Linked DNA regions of Homo sapiens: region 1 is linked to region 2. Evidence: fine-mapped QTL for protein levels in blood plasma. A gene starts in region 2. The other region holds a variant in brackets. All regions are shown on one strand. Distances are between the middles of the regions. Region 1 has its middle 22 kb from the start of TREM1. Region 2 holds the start of TREM1 (triggering receptor expressed on myeloid cells 1).

Region 1 (5,385 bases), 23 kb after region 2:
AGGTTATTGATAGACAAGCAAACTCTGCCCTGTCTTCCTTCCCCTGCTGAGAGGGAAAAGCAAACCCCAAACTGATATGCTTCCACGTACAATTCATTTCAATATTCCTTTACTTCATATACATTTGTGCCTTTTGACTTCCATTTTTAAACTGGTATAACATCTTCTCAAATAAATTATGTATTATGAGTTAAATAAAATTTTTAGCATGTGTTTATTTTTGTCTCATGGTTTAAGCTTTTTTTTTGAAAATTATAACTCTAGTTATATGTTTTCAGATAGCATTGTGCTTCTGAGACTATCCGTTGTTGCTATATGTAAATCTAAATCTTCAATTTTTGGCTGCTAGGTAGGATTTCATATAATGTAGGGGCAGTATTGGATTTCATTTTTCTGTTCCCCCTAGTGATGGGAACCTAAGTTGCTTCAACTCTTTACTACCACAAAACAACACAAGCATACAAACAGAAAAACAAGCAAACAAAATACCTCAAAATAAACACTTCCATTCATGCTCTTGAAGGAGCCATATAAGAATTTTTTAAACTACATGTTAAGTTGGCATTAAGCCAAATAGAAAATAGGAACAAAATAGAGGGTTTAGGAACATACCCACACATAGACAGTCACTTGACTGCCACTAAAGGGCCTCTGCAATTTAGTGTGGAAAAGATGTTGTTTCTATCAAAGGGTAATGATCAGTTGGATACCCACCCAGAAAACAAAATAGGTTTTTAACTCTTTCACACTGCACATGAAATTAATTGAAAATGCATCATAGACCTAAATATAAAAGGTGAAAACAATATAGTTTCTGGAAGAAAATGTAGAAAAAATGACCTTGGAGAAGTCAAATATTTTCTAAACAGGACGTAAAAAATAGTATGCATAACAGAGCATAAGTCAGGGATGGAACATTGAGCATGGGATAGCCACATATTTATGCCACAGAGGCTCCAGATTGTTCTCCAGAATGTTGGGTCATGTTGCATTCCCCCCAGCAGGGCTCAAGGATCCCCCTTTCCTCCACTCTCACCAACTCCTAGTGTCATCCACCTTCCATGTGCTCACCATTCAGATGAGTTCAAAGTGACAGTTCCATGTTTTAAAATTAGTATTTCTCTAACTAACACGATCAAACATCTGTTTATGAGTTTCTTGGGCATATAGTTTTTTACTGCAATGTATAACCTATTTCTAACCATTTTCTATTTGGCTTCCTTCCTTCCGCTTGTTGATTTTTAATCAGCCCTTGGTTAGTTTAGATGTTGAAATTATTTGTATAAATTCACAGGATACAAATGCAATTTCATTACATGCACGAATTGCAAAGTGTCCAAGTAAGGGTTTTTAGGGTATCCATCACCTGAATGATGTACATTATACCATTAAGCAATTTATCATCATCCACCCCACCCCCATCCCCTCACTCTTCTGAGTCTCTATTGTCTATTATTCTACTCTCTATGTTCATGTGTACAAATATTTTAGCTTCAGCTTATGAGTGAAAGTATGCACTATTTGTCTTTCTGTGTCTGACTTGTTCCACTTAAGCTAATGGCTTCCAGTTCCATCCATGTTGCTGCAAAAGACATGATTTCATTATTTTTATGGCTGAATAGTATTCCATTGTGTATATATATCATACTTTATTTATCCAGCCATCTGTTGATGGACACTTTGGTTGATTCCATATCTTTGCTATTGTGAAGAGTGCAGATAAACACACAAGTGCAGGTATCCTTTTGATATATTGATTTATTTTTCTTTTGTTAGGTATACAGTTGGGATTGCTGGATCAAATGATAGTTCTATTTTTAATTCTTTGAGAAATTTATTTTTTGTTAGTAGCTGTTCTAACTTACATTCCCACCTGCGGTGTATAAGAGTTCCATTTTATCTGCATCCTTGCCAACATCTGTTCTTTTCTGACTTTTTAACAATGGCCATTCTGATTGGTATAAAATGTCTGTTGATGTCCTTTGCCCACATTTTAATGAGATTATTTGGGTTTAATGGGTTTTTTTGGTTGTTGAATTGCTTGAGTTCCTTGTATATTCTTGATATTAGTCCCTTGTTGGAGGTACAGTTTGCACATATTTTCTCCCATTCTAAAGTGTTGTTCATCTTTTTTTTTTCTGTGCAGAAGCTTTTAAGTCTCATTTGTCTATTTTTGTTTTTGTTGTCTCTGTTTTTGAGGTCTTAGTCATAAATTCTTTGCCTAAACTAATGTCCAGAAGAGTTTTCCCTAGGTTTTCTTCTGTTATTTTTATAATGTTAGGTCTTATGTTTAAGTTTTTAATCCATCTTGAGTTATTTTTGTATATGGTGAAAGATGGGGGACCAGTTTCATTCTTTTGCATAGGGACATTCAATTTTCCCAGCACCATTTATTTAGAAGGGTGTCCTTTCCCCAATGTATGTTCATGTCAACTTTGTCAAAAATGAATTGGCCACAAATAAGTGGCTTTATTTCCAAGTTCTCTATTCTGTTCCACTGATCTACATGTCTATTTTTATACCAGTGCCAAACTGTTTTGGTTACTATTGTTATATTAGTGTTGTAATATAATTGGAAGTCAGGTAACACCATGCCTCCAGCTTTGTTCTTTTTGCTTAGAATTGTTTTGGCTATTTGGGTTCTTTTTGGTTTCCATGTGAATTTTAGGATTATGTTTTTCTAATTCTGTGAAAAATAATATTGATATTTTGATAAGGATTGCATTGAATCTGTAGACTGCTTTGGGCAGTATGGTCATTTTATTTATTTATTTAT[A/T]TATATATATATATATTTATTTATTTATTTATTTAGAGATGGAGTCTCACTCTGTCACCCAGATTGGAGTGCAGTGGCGTGATCTCAGCTCACTGCAACCTCTGCCTCCCAGGTTCAAGCAATTCCCCTGTCTCAGCCTCCCAAGTAGCTGGGATTACAGGCACACGCCACCATGCCTGGCTAATTTTTGTATTTTTAGTAGAGACAGGGTTTCACCATATCGGTCAGGCTGGTCTCAAATTCATGACCTCAGGTGATCCACCCACCTCGGTCTCCAAAAGTACCGGGATTAAAGGCATGAGCCACCACGCCCAGCCTATTTATTTTTATTTTTAATAGTAATCCTATTAACTGAAGTATGGTCATTGTAATGATACTAATTTTTTTGATCCATGAGCATGAAATGTTTTTCCATTTGTTTTTGTTATCTATAATTTCTTTCATCAGTGTTTTGTAGATCTTTCACCTCCTTGGTTAAATCTATTCCTACATATTTAAATTTGTTTGAAACTATTGTATATGGGATTGCCTTCTTTATTTTATTCTCAGCTATATCATTATTGGTGTATAGAAACACTACTGATTTTTGTACATTTATTTTGCATCCTGCAACTTTACTAAACTCATTTATCAAATCTGAGAGTTTTGTGGTGAAGTCTTTAGGCTTTTCCAGATATAAGATCATGTGATCAGCTAAGAGTAGTAATTTGACTCCCTCCTTTCCAATTTGGATGTCTTTTATTTCTTTATCTTACCCAATTGCTCTGGTCAGGACTTCCAGTACTATGTTGAACAGGACTGGTGAAAGTAGGCATCCTTGTCTTGTTCCAGGTCTTAGAGGAAATGCTTTCAACTTTTCCCCATTCAGTCTGTTGGCTGTGAGTTTGTCATATATGGCTCTTGTTATTTTGAGGTATGTTCCTTTGATGCCTAGTTTGTTGAGGGTTTTTAATTGTGAAGGGATGCTGAATTTTTGAATGCTTTTTCTGTGTCTATTGAGATGATAATACATTTTTTGTCCTTAATTCTGTTTATGTGCTATATCACATTTATTGCTTTGCATTGTGGAACCATCCTTGCATTCCTAGTATAAAACACATTTAATCATCGTGTACTTTTTTTTGATGTACTGTTGGTTTTTGTTTGCTAGTGTTTTGTTGAGAAATTTTGTGTCTATGTTTATCAGGAATATTAGTATGTAGACTTCTTTTCTTTGTTGTGTCCTTTTCTGGTTTTGGTATCAGGGATCTATTGGCCTTGTAGAATGAGTTATGAAGAATTCTCTCCTCATTGATTTTTTTGGAAGATGTCTTTTTGAGGAGGATTAGTAGAATTCAGCTATGAATCTATCCGGTCCTGAGCTTTTCTTATTTTTTCTTTTATTCTTTTTTTTTTTTTTTTTTTTTTTTCCTGAGATGGAGTTTCGCTCTTTTTGCCCAGGCTGGAGTGCAATGGCAAGATCTCTGTTAGGTAGAAACCTAACAGGTTTCACTTGTTTCTAAAAGTTTTTAAATTTCTAACTTAATTTCTTCATTGGTCCAGTGATTTTTTTTGGGAGTGTGTTAATTTCCATGTATTTGTATAGTTTCCAAAGTTCTTCTTGGTATTGATTTCTAGTTTTATTCCACTGCAATCCTAGAAGATACTTTATATAATTTCTATTTTAAAAAACTTATTCCACTGTGATGTGGAATAAATTTTGATGATCATAGAAGATATTTCATATGATTTCTATTTTTAAAAATTTGTTGAGACTTATTTTGTAGCCTACTATATGGTCTATCTTGGAGAAGTTTCCAAGGGCTGCTGAAAGAATGTATATTCTGCAATTGTTGGGTAGAATGTTCTCTAGATGTCTGTTGATTTGTTCTAACGTCCAATTATGTCCAATGTTTCTTTGTTGATTTTAGATCATTTTGTAGATAAACTGTTTAATACCGTGAGTGGGGTGTTGAAGGCCTTCATTATTATTGTATTGCTGTCTATCTCTTTAGGTCTAATATTATTTGTTTTATGAATCTAGGTGCTCCAGTGTTGGGTACATATATATTCAGAATTGTTTTATCCTCTTGCTGAATCAATCCTTTTATCAGTATATAATAACCTTATTTGTCTTTTTATGTTGTTTTTCATTTAAAGTCTGTTTTATACTACATAAGTATAGCTACTCCTGATCACTTTTGGTTTCCATTTGCATGGAATATCTTTTTCCACACTTTGCTTTCAGTCTGTATATGTCTTTATAGATAATGTGAGTTTCTTGTAAGCAGCATATAGTCGAATCATGTTTAAAAAAATTAATTCAGCCAATCTATATCATTTAAGTGGAGCATTTAATGCATTTACATTTAAAGTTAATATTGATATGTGGGGTTTTGTTTCTCTCATATTGCTAATTATTTTCTAGTTGTTCTATCAAGTCTTTGTTTTTTTCTTTTTCTCTCATTGTTTGTCTTTGTGGTTTGGTGAAATTTTGCAGTAGTGTCATTTGATTCTTTTCTCTACCTTCTTTGTGTAATTGCTTTACTAGTGAGTTTTATACTTTCATGTGTTTTCATGATGGTTAATATCAGCTTTTCACTTCCAAGTTTAGGACTCCTTTGAGTATT
Region 2 (5,385 bases):
GCTGGACTCTCGATAGGGGCATTAGAGGGAGATTGGGAGGCTGGAGGAGGAAGACAGGACATGCTCACTGATTCCTATTTCATTCTCTTTCATTGTGAGTAGCCTCAGTGATGCTTTTCACGGGCAACAGTGACTGGTTCCAGTTTGCAGTTTTCCCCACTCTCAGAAGTAGTCTCATTGGGCCTCCTCAGAGATATCAGCACCAGGGTCACACTATCCTCAGAGATCTGTGTTCCAGTTCCATGTGGGCCCCTCCTCTGAGCCAGAAAAGAAGATATTTTATATGCAATCTCATTGTTAAAAAATGTTACACATATATTCTAGCTAGGTTAGATTAACCAATCTTTATTAAGGAAGAAACTGCTAATTTACCCCATAGTGAAGATCGAGACCTACTGACTTGGGGCAGTGACTTATTGAAGACAAAACAAAACAGAATAATATTGGTATTATTTCATTAATTGTATCAATGTTGAAACTGTATTGATTTCATAATAGCTCTGAAGATGAAGTTTGGCAAATATGGAAAGGTTCATGGTACCCAAAGACTAAATCTTCCTAGTGCTAGAGGCCACCCTATGAGCAAGCATGGAAATGGGACATGTGACCCAGCCTTAGTAAAATTAACAGGAACCATAGGTCACAAATGACAGTGCTCTTCTATGAGAAGCCTTAAGAAATAATATCTTGTTGGGAGCAGTAGCTTGAGAATTTAAAGAGACCCTAATAGTTAGGCAGGAATATCGTCCTGCCTATTCAGCCTGAAGAAGTTACTGATCGGGTCATTAAACTCCTCAGAAAAATAAAGTGGTAAGGATTAGAGAATGCTGCCATGTGCTGCACAAGGAAGTTTTGGTCCATGACAGACTGCATATATGGTGGAGGTCCCATAAGATTATAATGTCATAATACCGTATTGTTACTATGCCTCTTCTATGTTTAGATACACAAATACTTACTATTGTGTTACAAATGCCTACAGTATTGAGGACTGTAACATACTGTGCAGGCTTGCAGCCTAGGAATATGCTTTACTTTGATTTATGTTCAAGTATCATTCTCCCTTAGATTTTGTGAGGTTGAAAGGTATTTGTCTAAACTGGATGTGAATGGAGAGGGGGCCTCCGGAGAGCAAAGGGCCCTCTGTTCCCCTTCCTAATATTAATAGGCTATACCATACAGCCTAGGTGTACAGTAGGCTGTGCCATGTTAAGTTCGTGTAAGTGCACTCCATGATGTTCCTGCAACACAAAATCACCTAGCAACACATTTCTCAGAATGTATCTGTCATTAAGTGACACGTGACTATTTGCACTGTTGACCTCAAGTACACAAATAGATCAGACAAGTGGAGAAAGACCTCATTCTACTTCATTCTAATTTAAATGCAGGTGCTGTCCGTAGTTAGGAAAATGTGAAGGAGCAATCAGCCTCCAGTGATATTCAAGTCTAATTAAAAATTCTTCTTGGACTGTTTAGTTCAAAGCTCCCTCTTAATCTTCCAGGAGCTTAATCCTCCACACAAAGTATATGAAGACACAAAAATGTAGAAAGTATGTGAAATAGCTATTATTTAAGTGTGGAATATTAATTTTGTTGTAAGGAGGGGATTTATTCACTGAAATAAACTTTATTAATTTGACTCATCGCCACAGAAGTCACGTAGGCTCCTCTCTGAGTCAGAAAATGTCAAGAGCTTTCTGTCTATTTTTCCTCTTTAGGGACTGCTTGAGTACAGCAAAAGGAGGGGCCAGCAGATTTCAGTTCAAGCATGTTTGAAGCCTGTTTTCCGACATTATTTGTAGAACAAAAAATAAACATAGTAAAATCTCCACTACAAATGATCTCTATAAAGTGTAATAACATGATTTAAGTTTATGTATTATTTTCTATATTTTATAAATTGCTGCATTGAACAGCTTTAATAAAAAAAATTAAAGTTAGCCTTGAAAATTTTTTTGGTTGTTGTTTGTTTTAATTTACAGACATGATAGTACCTTTTAGCTGTTCCTATACTTGAGTAGCAATCAATTTGGGTGTAAAATATTAGGGTCATAATGTTCTTTATACCTCATCCCACTCTCTCATGGTATTTGTTACTCAGAGAAGAAATCTGAGTCCTGATTATTTCAATTCCTTTGAAGAAACCAAGTTATTTTTTTGTTTATTTAGCAGTAGGAATCTTTTTATTTAAATTTAAAAATTTTCACCTGGAAACTTCCTATTCTAGGTCTCACTTTGTGAATTTTTTCCTTGCCCATGTTGAACTCTCAACCTCCAATTTTAGATTTCTTCTCAGACCTGGAAAGCATATTTTTTAAGATAAAATTTTTAATCTTGCTTGTGATCCACCATTCCATTTTATGCTTTAAGGACATCTCTGATTTGTAGATTGGAATTCTGTGATTTGTCCTCCCTTAAATTTCTGAGCTCTTCTAAATGTCTTTATTCATTTCACATTTGGGAATATTTCTGAAGTGAATCCTCTCCATTATTGATTTGATTTTCACACTGTCAAATCTGTCTTTTCTTGCTTCTAGTACAAAACCTGCTGGATTTTTTCTTCTTGCTTCAGCGTCTTGAACCAAGTTTCCTTTTTAAATCTAAGTCTGTTCTTGTTGGGTGGTGGCAGTGTCCTCTCAAATTGTTTCTGGGGTCCCTACACCCCCGTGAGCTCCCAGGCCATGTCTGTGGCAATGCTGAAGGACAAATGCAGGGTGTGGCCCTCCTGGTGATGAAGAGGAGGTGCACCCCAGGTCACCAGAAGCCAAGAGAACCCACGGGGCTGAGCAGGGCAGGATGAAGCAACATGTTCTCACAAAAACCCTGAAGATGAGATACGATTGTCGCAGCCTCTCCCTATGTGGGCCTGACTCTCTTCACTACACTAAACTGGATGTGAATGGAGAGGGGGCCTCTGGAGAGCAAAGGGCCCTCTGTTCCCCTTCCTAATATGAATGCCTTACTTTGATTTACATTCAAGTATCATTCTCCCTTAGATTTTGTAAGGTTGAAAGGTAATTGTCATTATTACCACAGAAAGGAAAACTGGAGTTCAAAGAAACTTAACTGAGAAGTGAGTCTTGGTCTCTGTATTATTGTGTTGATGTCAGGAGTCAGAGCAACTGGTGATGAAACAGAACCCAAACTCAGTGACTCCCAGGAATGGCCTCATATCCTGTTGTGCAACTTTCCGAAGCCTCTAGGTCATTGTGGTGCCTTGTAGCTGTCCCGGGAGCCCTCAGCAGCAGTTGGAGCTGGTGCACAGGAAGGATGAGGAAGACCAGGCTCTGGGGGCTGCTGTGGATGCTCTTTGTCTCAGGTAAGACAAGGAAGAGGACTGAGCAGGGGAGGCGTTTGGTCCAGGATCTCGGGGAGCCCTTTTCTGTTGAAGCTTCAGAGCACAGGGCCATCCAAGATAGAGCCAACCAGTAGTTATGGCAGACCGTGCTGCTCTACCCAGAATTGGGAGAACATGCAGTGTCTGCACACAAAAGTAAAAGAAGGAGAGAGTCAGGGAAAAAAGATGTCTGTGCATGTCGATGTTGTTAGAGACATGCAAAGCCTAGTATGGGAATAATGATAGAGTAGATCTCATCATGGCATGATCTACAATAAGTTTATTTGATGTTGAAATTTTTTTCTTATATTCCATCATGATGTGTTTGATGTTGACAATCTGTTAAACCCAAAAGACAGAATTGATTTAACAAATATTTCCCAGGGGTCTACTATGGGACAGCAAATATACTACTGCTGAGGACACAGACGTGACCAGAAGAGGCTGGTGCTCATTTTGGTGGAGGTGATCATCCCAGCTCTCCATGGCACGCTGGGGTTGGAGGGCACAGTTGCTGAGGCTCAGCAGAGCCGGCGCATGCCCCAGCTCTTTCTTGTGTCTCCTCTTACGATCCGCACAGCTCACATCTGCACCCAAACCAGAAGCATGCGGGCTTTATTCACTCCTCCTCCTAATCCTTATGAATAACAGGAGGAAAGTGTCAATATGAGTTAAAAGCGAGGCTTGCCTTGGGAAGGCATGAAAAATCAGGGAGAGGTATCCTCCTGGGCTCTCTACTTTGAGCAAAGTCATGGACAACTGCCTTGAAGAGCCTGTGCTCAGACATTGCTCTGGGTCTTCTTGGAGCTGGGGTGATAATCTAGATGGGCAGAAGGGAGTTAGCTCCTCATGGACAAGTGCATTTCCTTGTGTTTGATTCATGTTTTTCTGAAGGAGAACTGGGAGATGGCAGAGGGCTGAAGGTTATGTACCTGTGTGAGAGAAAACCAGTGGTATATATTTCATTGTGCCCTGTGGGGATAGGTTAGGGGTTAACCTCAATGCTCCTTGCAACTGGATACTTATTCACACTTGGGCCAGGACTTCTCTAATCCCTATCAGACTGTGTTGGACCATGTAGCTCAGTGCTTTAGGTGGAACCAGAGTCCTTGGGTTTGAATCCTGGCTCTAGTACTTAACTATGGTGAGACTTTGGGCAAATCACTTAATCTGTCTGTGCCTCAGTTTCCTTATCTATAAAATGGGGAGAATAATGGTGTCAACTTTTTACTTTATAAAGATTAAATAAGATAGTCTTTAAAAACCCTTAGCACATAATACTTAATAGGTAGTATTTGCTACCCTTTTAATTAACATATTCAAAGGAATTCCCTTCTTGCAATTGTGCACAGACAGCTCAGCAGCCTTCATTTCTTATTGTCTCCTTCCTTCTGTGAGAGACAGGCAAGTTTGCAAACTCAGTCACCTGTAACTCCCACCTTCCCTGGGGAGCTGGCAAATAAAAGAGATTTATCTGTAACATTAACTTCAGAGGTTAGGGCTTCAGTGGTGGCAACTTGAGGATGGAGTCTGTGTGTCTTCCAAAGAGCCCAGCACAGTGCCTATGATAGAGAAGTCTCCCAGCCAGTCTGATGAGTGAGTGAACAAATGAGGGAACCAGGCTTGGTTTCAGACAACACTCAGCCTCTGGTCAACAGTCTCTTGGAGGCACATTCCTGACTGGAGTGTGTGGGAGTTGCCCAAGAGGTCTGTTTCCGAGGTTTCCCTAGAAACTGGAGTCTGCTCCCAGAAGAACTGGCTTTCAAGACTGATTTCACCTTTAAACTCCTTGTGAGTCCCTGAGTTGAGTCTTCCTAAGGTCAGGCAGATCTGTTGGCCTATCCTGGGGTGGGCATGCCAGGGGGCTCCATGAAAGGGTAAGCACTTGTCATTTTTCACCAGGCCTGCAAGGACCTAAGTGTGTGGTATTAATAACAGCAGTACTAGTGTTACCGTGACCCACACAGTAGACCCAGCAGCACTGTCTAGCCTGTTATTTGGTGCTCCATGGGGGAAGGTACCCCAGGCCTGAGTGGGTAAGCTAC

What was found. PIP is the chance, under the fine-mapping model, that this variant and not a neighbour inherited with it causes the effect. Sun 2018 read protein levels with aptamers (SomaScan).
Region 1: its variant is fine-mapped to the plasma level of the TREM1 protein (Sun 2018, PIP 0.95).

Annotation. Positions count from the first base shown.
Region 1 is chr6:41,261,931-41,267,315 of GRCh38, reverse strand. No RefSeq gene overlaps it. Among named protein-coding and RNA genes, the nearest start is that of TREM1, 22 kb to the left of the region's middle. The variant A/T (reference allele first, on the strand shown) is at 2,777.
Region 2 is chr6:41,284,544-41,289,928 of GRCh38, reverse strand. It overlaps TREM1 (triggering receptor expressed on myeloid cells 1), which reads left to right and starts at 3,247. Exons shown (of 4, transcript NM_018643.5): 1 at 3,247-3,322. The coding sequence starts at 3,274. RefSeq lists a silencer at 1,173-1,262.